Regions from separate parts of the Homo sapiens genome. Here region 2 is linked to region 1. The links come from fine-mapping of genetic effects on gene expression. A gene starts in region 1. The other region holds a variant in brackets. All regions are shown on one strand. Distances are between the middles of the regions.

Region 1 (5,382 bases):
CACTTGTGTGTGCACCTCTGTCCAGTGGACTTGGCAGCCACCCTCTTCCCCACATTCCTTCTCCAACTTCTTAGGTAGGATTGGGGAAACATAAAGGGCGAGGGTGAATAAGAAAAAGTGGATCATTTCTGTGGGAATACTCAAGCAACCCCTTTGAAAGTTCTTCCCTTCTGGAATGAGTAAGAGATATCACCATAAATGTCTTTACTAATTAGGATTTCTGAGGAGAGAATGGAAACAAACTCTCAGCCTTAACCTTACTTCAAAGTCTGGATGATCTTTAGTTCCATAGATCTACCCAAACAGCTCCACAGGAATGTAGCAATAAAGAATGGAAGTTATCTCAGGAGTCCCAGAACTTAGGTGGGTCACCCTTAATAATGGAAACTTCAAACTGTATAGGACTTTACACTTACAGGGCATTTTTACATTGTCATGTAATTTGATTCTCCCTAAGCAGAGTAATAGATACAACTGCTACTACAGGTGGTAGTACTAGCACCCCTAAAACAAAAATTCGAAATGCTCCCAATCTAAAACTTGTTAAGCACAGACATGACCACAAAGATGATGTTAACATTGCAGAAAAGCACCTACAGACATGGTAACAATGAGTGACGGGCTTCTTGAAAGACTATAGCAGAGCGCATTCATAACAGAACAAGAAATCGTGTCAGTCTATAAAATCAAAGAGACTTCTAAGACAAAAGCTTGTTAATGAATCAGGTGACTGGCAAAAACATTTTTAAAAGCCATCTGGCAGAATGCCTCCTCATCTCTAGAGGACCCACTTTCTGGTCCCTCTACTGCTTCAGATACTACTTCTCACCTAAAAAAATACTGTGCACAGTAACCTTTAATCAAAACACAGCATCACAGCAGGAGACAGAAAGCCTTATGTTGCTGTGTCTAACAGCTGATACAGGTATTCTGGTGATGCTACTGTGCTTAGTTACCCTGAACACATCATTTATTTTCACTGTGTTAATAGTACATCATATTTTTTTACCGTTAAGAACTTATGTGTAACGTAAGAAAATATTTATCGGTAGCATATAAATTCATTGTCAGGAATGGTGGTGATGCCAACCAACCAGACTATCCACATGGGTGCCTGAGATAGTGACGCCTTTGCTTTCTGATGGTTCAGTGTAGATAAACTTTGTTTCATGCACACAATTATTGAAAATATTGTATAAAATTACCTTCGGGCTATGTATATACAGCATATATGAAACATAAACGAACTTCAGGTTTAGACTTAGGTCCCCTCCCCAAGATAGCTCATTTTTTATGTGCAAATACTCCCAAATCCAAAAATATCTGAAACAAAACATACTTTGGTCCAAAGCAAAGGAAGGTATGGAGAACTTAGATAACTTCTCCAAACTTCCTTGCTGGAAGTCCACCACTGATCTGTCTGATCAGAGTGAGCCAGTGCTCTGTGCCCCACCCTTCCTCACTCCTCACCCGCACTATCCTTAGGGAGGCCAGCAGCCTTGAACCTGAAGGAAGACCACTAAAAGAAGTATGGCCCATAGGTGAGTGAGAGGCAGGCTTAAGGAGCAGCTGGCTACCTCTGAGTCAGCCCTGTAGACAGGGTGGCCGTGCACTGTGGTCGTGACCAGGTGCTGCAGGCTCACCTCCCTCACCTTGTTGGCTTCAGCTGGGGGCACCAGCAAACACCCGACCACAGCCACCAAAGATAAGAGCTTCATGCTTATCAGGCTTGCTGGGCCAGCAAAGCCGGACACCTGGAAAAAGAGATACGGAGTCGGAGAAGGGGAAGGTGGCCACACCGCAGCCAGCACGCTAGGCCCTTAACCATCCGGCCAAGTGGGAATGGGGTTGGGGGCTGGGCTCCAGGATTCCAAGGCCTGCTAAACCTGGTCGCCAAACCCTGCTTCCCTCCCGCCCAACTCTCCGGCTCTCCGCCAGCCACCTGGTGAGCCCGGCAGAGGGGTCCTCGAGGGGACACCGCTGCCAGGGGCCTCCAGTTCCTTCTCAAGGCCCGGCTCTGACCCGCGCATCACGTCCCACCGCCCTCCGCCATCTCCGCCTCTGCCCGCCCCGCAGCTCCTCCCCGCTCGGGCCCGACGGGAACTTTTGGGTGCGAGTCTGGGACCCCTGCTCCGACGGCGAAGGCCGGTGCCCACCACGCCCAGAGGTCTTAAGCCGGACTGGGACCCCCAATAGCCCCGCGACCCCCGTCCCCTCCCCCAATGCCGCGTCCACGAACCTACAAGCCCGCTGCAGCCGCAAAAGACCCAGTTGTCCCCGCCCTCTCCTAGCTTCTATTGGTTGCCAGAGCAGCCCCTTAACCCGACCGCGCTGTCGCCATGGCAACAAGACCCGCCTTCACCTGGGCGGGGAGACTCTTGCGCAAGGGAGAGGCGGGCATTTCTCAAACCCGACCAAACCAGAAAAGGGAACGTCAGCCTTCCAAACTCCTGGGGAAGGGTCTTGCCTTTGTGTGGCCTGAGAACTCCCACTGCGGTGCTTCTCCCTTCCTTGTATTATAAAACTCAGCTTGTTTCATCTTGCTGTTTTAGAAAGAAAGCGCTTTATACACTGTAAGCTAGTAACGTCAACAAAAACGATACGAGATTGAAGGGCTTTGTCCTCATTCAAAATCTGGAAATGTTATTTAGGGATCCACGTCTTTGCTGCAGAAGACTTTCTGCGCGGCAACGTCTCTACCCCTACACACACCTCTGAGAAGGAGAAATCTAGGGTTGGCGATGGGTGGTGTGGGCTGGGCCTGTGAAGAGTGTGCACAACAGCGTCCTCAGCCTGATCCCCCTACCCCATGCTGGTGCTGGGCCTGGCAAAATGGGGCAAAGTGTGCATGGCCAGGATGCAGGGGTGAGGGTCCCTGGCTGCTATGTGGCAGATGTGAACTTCTTGCCAGCTGTGAAGGAAAGGGGAGTCATATGAATTCAGGGCACCAGACCCGGAGTGAGGACACCGGGGCTTTGGCCCTGGCGCTCCCCCTAAGCAGCTGTGTTAGCCTGGAAAAGATACCTCCCTTCTCTGGGCCTCAGCTTCCCTTACTTCCCTTATCTGTAAAATGATTCGGTTGGATTCTAAGATCCCCTTCAGCTTTGATATGTTGGGATTCCTTAGGGGTGGGTGGGAGGGGTATCAATATGGCCCAAACTTGAGGTTGGTGGCTGGATTAGCATAGGGGCTGGGTCCAGGTGGAATCAAGCCCCTCGCAGGCCCTGTGAACTGAGGTGGGCACTTATCTGGAGGCCACTGAGTTTGTGTTCCTCTCTCCTATGCTTATGTCTTATTCCTCTTTATATCCTTGCCACCTGGCAGAGTGACCTGTGTTTGGTAGGTGCTCAGGAAGTGTTTGCTAAACTGAATTCTATAGAATTAAATTAAATCTAGTTGGCAGGGGGCAGGGGCAGGAGGCCTGCAGTGTGATGCAAAGGTCAGGGGCTTTGGAGCTAGAGTGACCAGGGCAGGAATCCTGGTTCCTCCCTTCCTAGTTGTGTGAATTTGGGTGGTTTCCTTTAGGACACCGCCTTTGGATCTTTGGAAGTCTTTGGAATCCTTTCAGAAGTCTCGGTTTCCATGCCCATAAAATGGGATTAATATTACCAAATTTTCAAGGTGGTTGTAGGGATATAATGAGTTTACATATGCAAAGCACCTAGAACAGCATCTGACACAAAGAGGGAGGCTCTATAAATGGCAATGTTAGCTCATTGTGGAGGTCAGAATGGCTGCTTTGGTGAGCAAGCTCAGGCAGAGACAGAATGCCTACCTCGTGGGGGCAGAAGGGATAGTTCAAGTACTGGAAAAAGACACTTCTTCCCCCCATATACGTTCCATATGAAGGTGGGACTTTCATGGGGACAAAAGCATGGGGCTGAGTCTGTCACCTCCAATGGATGACCCTCTGACACACAACACTAAAGATACCCAATGCTGAGCTCACCATCTTCCTCATCAAACAGAAGGGAGGCCTTCCACTGTCATTCTGCATTTCTGCAGGTCCTAGATTGTGGCATCAAACTATCTTTGACTCCTCTCTCATATTTCCACATCTTGTCTATCCAGGTGTCCCCAGGAGGTAGCTATCATCACCCTGCCTGTATCTTTCCTCGGCTAGCATTCTGCTCCCTGAAATGCACTCCCTTCCTGTGTGCTCCTAGGTCCATCCTGTCTTCCTCCAATTCTGTTTTCAGCACATCGCTCATTGCTCAATCCCTGGTAGCAAGCACCCTGTTGCATCCAATTCAGACCCCTCCACTTGGCAACCAAGCCAAGTGGTTACCATTTCTGCACTTCCCCACCCCATCTCATCACTGGTTACTCCCCCCACCGGCTGTCCCTATATCTGACTTTGCTCATTGCAGTCCTCCATAGGACATTATCACCCCCAGCACTGCCAGTCGTTATCTTTCATCTTATTCAAATCTTTGCCCAAGCATTTGCCTTGCAGAAGCTTTTCCCAAATAGTCCTACCTGACCCAGGGCACCTCATTCCCATACATCCTCCATGTGCCCTGTGTTTATGAGCCATGCCAGTGAAGTGAGTCTGAACCTATTCATTAAATTTAATTCCATAAACATGTGCCAAGCACTATCTGTGAGCCAAACTCCAGGGCTCACAGATGCTAGGTACCCCAGGGATACAACAGACAAATCACATGCAACTCTGCTTTCAAGTAATGCACAACCTAATAGCAGACCAATCACATGGTCAGAATGTAACATAGAAAGTGATGTGTTGTAGAAGTGAAGCAGCCTTGTTGTCTGTGGTGACACTTGAGGTTTGTTGTCTCCTGGCCATGAAGATCAAGGAGGTAGACACACAAAGAGTGAGGTTAAGAGTGGAAATTTAATAGGTGAAAGAAAGACAATAGCTCTCTGCTACAGAGAGGGGTCCTGGAAAAATGAGTTGCCAATTTAAGGTGAAATGCAGGGGGTTTTATAGATGAGCTAGTGGGGAGGCAGTATCTCATCTATACAGGGCATCTCAAAAAAAGTTAGCACCAGGTGTGCCATCTGCATAGGGCACAAATCTCTGGCAGCTCCCAGCCCAATCTTTATTATGCAGGTGGTTTCTCTGCCTGAGCTTCTCCATGTTGCCCAGTTCTTTCTTACTGTACATGTGCTAACAAAAAAGGGAAGGTGGAGTCCCATGGTGAACATGCCTGGCCCCCCGGTAGCCCTTTTCTATGAGTGCAGCTGCCAGCATTCCTCCGTGCAAGCTTCCAGCTTCCTTATATATGTTTGCAGCCCAATCTTTGAGGCTGCTCTGTGTTAGAAAAGAAATGATTTCTAGGGCTGCTTCTTATTAGAAGGGAAGTTCTGCCAAGGACTTTTTTGTCCTTGCTATCTGCCTAAATAATTTCTATCTCCCGT
Region 2 (5,382 bases), 470 kb before region 1:
ACAAAACCTTCTAAGATACAGCACCAAAAGCGTAAGAGACAAAAGAAAAAAATAGATAAAGTAGACTTCATCAAGTTAAAAACTTTTGTGCTGCAAGTGATACTATCATGAAAATAAAAGACAATTCATAGAATGGAATAAATGATTTGTAATTAATATATATCTGATAAGAGACTTGTAACCAGAATTTATAATGAAGTCTTAATACTTTAAAAAAAAAACAAATTTTTAAAAGGACAGAGGATCTGAATAGACCCTTTTCCATAGAAAATATGCAGATAACCAATACATGAAAAGATGCTTAACATCATTGGTAATTAGAGAAATGCAAATCAAAACCACAATGAGATAGCACTTCACACTTACTAGGATAGCAATATATATATAGTTGGCAGACAATATAAAGGGTTGTCAGGATGTGGAGAAATTGGAACCTTTATACATTGATGATGGGACTGTAAAGTGGTACAGCCATTTTGGAGAATAATTTAGCAGTTCCTCAAAATATTAAACGTAGGGATACCATATGACCCAGAAATTTCAGTCTCCTAGATTCTAAGAGAATTAAACACAAGTATTCAAACAAAAACTTGTACATGAATATTTATAGCAGCATTATTCATGACAGTCAGAAAGTGGAAACAACCCAATATCCATAATAAATGGATAAACAAATTATGTTATGTACATACAATGGAATGCTATTCGGCAATTTAAAAAAATTAAGTACAGATACCTGCTACAACATGGAGGAATCTTGAAAACATTATGCCAAGTGAAATAAATCAGTTGCAAAAGGCCACATACTGTGATCCTATTTATATGAAATATCCGGAATAGGCAAATCTCTAGAGACAAAAAATAGATTAGTAGTTGCTTAGGACTGAGTAGGGGGAAATGTGTGTTAGGGAAATGAGGAGTGATGCTAATAGGTTTCTTTTTGGGGTGATGAATTATTCTAAAACTAGGTGCTGATGATGGTACAACTCTAAATACACTTAAAAAATTGAGTTGTGCACTTTCAATGGGTGAATTTTATGGGATGTGAATCTCAGTAAAGCTGTTAAAAGTGTTAATAGTAGTTATCTCTGATGGTGGGCTTATGGTAATTTCTTTTTCTTCTTCTTCATAAATATCTCCTACAATAAAAAAGTATCGCTGGGCGCAGTGGCTCATACCTGTAATCCCAGCACTTTGGGAAGCCGAAGCAGGCAGATCACAAGGTCAGGAGTTTGAGACTAGCCTGGTCAACATAGTGAAACCCTGTCTCTACTAAAAATACAAAAATTAACCAGGTGTGGTGGTGCATGCCTGTAGTCCCAGCTACTTGGGAGGTTGAGGTGGGAGAATCACTTGAACCTGGGAGGCGTAGGTTGCAGTGAGCTTAGATTGCGCCATTGCACTCCAGCCTGGGTGACAGAGTGAGACTCTGTCTCAAAATAAATAAATAAATAAATAAATAAATAAATAAGAAAGTGTTTTTACTTGTAAGAAAAAAGGAACAGTTATTGGTTTTAGTGGATTATCTCAACAAGGCAACAGAATTTAGTAGAGCGTTTCAGGGGTTTGAGAGCATTTTTTTTTTTTTGAGACAAGGTCTCTCTCTGTCACCCAGGCTGGAGTGCAGTGGCGTGATTTTGGCTCACTGCAACCTCCACCTGCCAGGCTCCAGCAATTCTGTCTCAGCCTCCTGAGTAGCTGGGACAACAGGCACCCACCATCACGCCCGGCTAATTTCTGCCATTTGCCCGGGCTTGTCTCAAACTCCTGAGCTCAGGTGATCCGCCTGCCTTGGCCTCCCAAAGTGTTGGGATTACAGGTTTGAGCCACCAGGCCCGGCCAAAACCATTCTTAAATACATGTCCCTAGAAGAAAACTGCTCCATTCTCCCATTCCATTTCCCACATCTTATTGTTCTCTACTGTAAAATAGAAGGTTTTTTTTCCCTTAAAATAATGAAACCTGTGAGTGTTTCTATTTTCTTCATTTTATGCAGGATTCATTTCAGGCTGAATGCCTTTTCATCTTTGACTTCTCATTGTTTGCTGCATCATAAGAAACTTCTGCACTTCAAAATCTTAATTTTTATGGGAATACATTCAGTGTGCTTTCAGAAATTGAGCTTAATACTTTAATCCAATTTAACAGATTGCATTCTTGCTCTTTCCTTATCCCAGGACCAGATATCATTTGGTTATAATCCCTTAACAGTTATAAATATTAACAACAATGAATGCAGCTTGCAAAAAAATTAAATTTCAATTTAACAGTGTAATAATGTGCTGTGAGAATTAAAATGACTTGTTAAAATATAGCCTACAAATTATATGAAAGCATTGTCGAAATTAGGGATTTTCTGTTTATTATAGCATATTTTGATGTGTTGATTAATCGATTATTGCAGGTAGGTGGATTATTCAGTGTCAGATGATAACTGGACTTAAGTATGAGCGATCATGGTTGCTTAAAAGAGGTCTACTTAGTTGAAAGGCAATACTACTCAAACAGTGGGAAAAATCCATAAACATGTTATAATATCAAATTTTCCTCTTAGATATACACCATGAAATTTAAAATGGCTACATTAAATTGTGGGAGACATAGCCCACAAAATCTGAAATAACTGATGGAAAAGTACTTGAAAAAGTTAAGAGCTTTTTTTGTGTGTGTGAGATAGAGTCTCGCTCTGTTGCCCAGGCTGGAGTGTAGTGGCATAATCTCAGCTCACTGCAACCTCCACCTCCCATGTTCAAGCGATTCTCTATCTCAGCCTCCCAAGTAGCTGGGACTATAGGTGCATGCCACCACACTTGGCTAATTTTTCTGGTGGTTTTTTTTGTTTTTTTTTTTGTTGTTTTTTTTTTGTAGAGACAGGATTTCACCATGTTGGTCAGGCTGGTCTTGAACTCCTGACCTCAAGTGATCTACCCACCTCGGCCTCC[C/G]AAAGTGCTGGGATTACAGGCATGAGCCACTGATCCCAGCCAAAAGTTAAGAGCTTTATAAAATATAAAATATTATCATTATTATCACATGAAGTAAGAAGACTATGTGTCCTTAGAAAGGATGAACATAGGCCAGGCGCAGTGGTGCACACCTGTAATCCCAGCACTTTGGGAGGCTGAGGCGGGCAGATCACGAGGTCAAGAAATCGAGACCATCCTGGCCAACGTGGTGAAGCCCCATCTCTACTAAAAATACAAAAATTAGCTGGGTGTGGTGGTGTGCACCTGTAATCCCAGCTACTCAGGAGGCTGAGGCAAGAGAATCGCTTGAACCTGGGAGGCGGAGGTTGCAGTGAGCCAAGATCGCATCACTGCATACTCTAGCCTGGGAAGCTGAGTGAGACTTCGTCTCAAAAAAAAAAAAAAAAAAAAGAAACGATGAACATAAGCATTTGCAAGAAATATTCAAGTTAAAGGTTTTTCGTTTTGTTTTAATGTTTATTCTTGAAGTCAGCTTTCTGAAAAACAGCAGGAATTCTGCAGAGATGCTCGGAAATCAGGAATGAGGGTAGCAGCTTTCAGTTTTATACCGAGGGGTGATTTCATTTAAACACAGGATCTGGAGTAAAAATGTTTGAAAACCATGACCGAGGCCTGGCGCGGTGGCTCACGCCTGTAATCCCAGCACTTTGGGAGGCCGAGGCGGGAGGATCACAAGGTCTGGAGATTGAGACCATCCTGGCTAACATGGTGAAACCCCGTCTCTACTAAAATTTAAAAAAAATTAGCCAGGCGCGGTGGCGGGCGCCTGTAGTCCCAGCTACTCGGGAGGCTGAGGCAGGAGAATGGTGTGAACCTGGGAGGTGGAGCTTGCGGTGACCCGAGATCGCGCCACTGCACTCCAGCCTGGGCAACAGAGCGAGACTCCGTCTCAAAACAAACAAACAAACAAACAAACAAAAAAACATGACCGCAGATGTATATGTTTAAATCCTTTCAGTATTAATTGATGGATTATGACCTACCCCTGAATAATAAGGTGGAGAACTGAAGGCTCTTCTTTCTTTGGTGAGGCAGGCAGACCCATAGCTGGGCTGAAACCTACTGTCAGAAGTGTTAGGTATGTACGGTAATGGCCCAAGTTTATTATTATTATTTTTATTTACTTTTTTTTTTTAGACGGAATCTCACTCTGTCACCCAGGCTGGAGTGCAGTGGCACAATCTCAGCTCACTGCAACCTCGACCTCCCAGGTACAAGCAATTCTCCTGCCTCAGCCTCCCAAGTAGCTGGGATTACAGGTATGCACCACCACGCCCAGCTAATTTTTGTGTTTTTATTAGAGACAGGGTTTCACCACATTGACCAGGCTGGTCTTGAACATCTGACCTCAGGTGATCCACCCGCCTCGGCCTCCCAAGGTGCTGGGATTACAGGCGTGAGCCACCGCGCCCAGCAATGTCCCAAGTTTATAAGAGCCAAGGATGTAGTTGTGCTTGCATCCCTTGGAGATTATATTTAAGCAAAAGGACAGTGATGGGGGTGGGAGGAGAGTGCACTGGGGGTGTGTGTTTGTCCTTATAAGCAAATGCAAGATTAGGCTTTCACTCAGTGTTATAATGTAATAATTATTTTGGAAGAAAAATTTCACACTGGGGCTATATCAGAGCTTTTCACTAGGGTTTCCTGCCTGTTTCCTGGGCCGCCTTACTCACTCTACTGTAAAATCCCTGAAGGTAAACACTCTGACTTTTTTACCTTTGTATCACCAGCACCTTGGCAGTACCTGATACAAAAATATTTGAATTACTTACAAGATTTAATAATCTAGCAAGCTACCAACAAAATGATAGAAATTTATTTTCCAGCTTAGGGTAATTGATGGCCCTCACACTAGAGAAAGCATTAGCAGGTGCCATTTGCAGATTTTTTTGGAAAAGAATAGAACCAAAGGGAGCTCCTGGCCCCAATATTCTCCCTCTTAAACATTCTTATCCCTACACTTAGAGTTTCCATACTTTTTATAAGGTTAAGTCATGCAAAAGATTGCACTGTAAACCTGGATAGCCTGTTTTTCTGGAAGGTCACAGTTTTAAATAACTGTGCCATTTTAATTATTCCCAAAACAACATTTCAAAAAAGCATTGCAAATATTTTCTGATTTGAATTAGATTTTGAGAAATGTGAAGATGTTACATTTTTGGAGTCAATTAAAATTTTGCTATGAATATGGCTGATACATCTTAACCTAATTTGCTTTCTATAAATAGGCAAGTATCAATTTGTATATTTTCTTAATTTTAATTTTTCACCTTGTCACTAAAAAAAAAACAGTATTTAGTTTACTGTTTAATTGCTTTTTAAAATAATCATAGTAGCATAAATGTGTCATATAGTAGGCTGTGGAATTGATTTCCTTTCATATGTAGAAATTGAAAAA

What was found. PIP is the estimated chance that this variant, and not a neighbour inherited with it, causes the effect.
Region 2: its variant is fine-mapped to the expression of TMEM9 in minor salivary gland (GTEx, PIP above 0.99).

Annotation. Positions count from the first base shown.
Region 1 is chr1:201,152,206-201,157,587 of GRCh38, forward strand. TMEM9 (transmembrane protein 9) reads right to left here and starts at 2,269. Exons shown (of 5, transcript NM_001288565.2): 1 at 1,653-2,269. The coding sequence starts at 1,718. RefSeq lists an enhancer at 1,506-1,655 and a silencer at 2,066-2,345.
Region 2 is chr1:200,686,188-200,691,569 of GRCh38, forward strand. DDX59-AS1 (DDX59 antisense RNA 1) reads left to right here. Exons shown (of 3, transcript NR_110787.1): 2 at 4,122-4,243. Among named protein-coding and RNA genes, the nearest start is that of DDX59, 19 kb to the left of the region's middle. The variant C/G (reference allele first, on the strand shown) is at 2,943.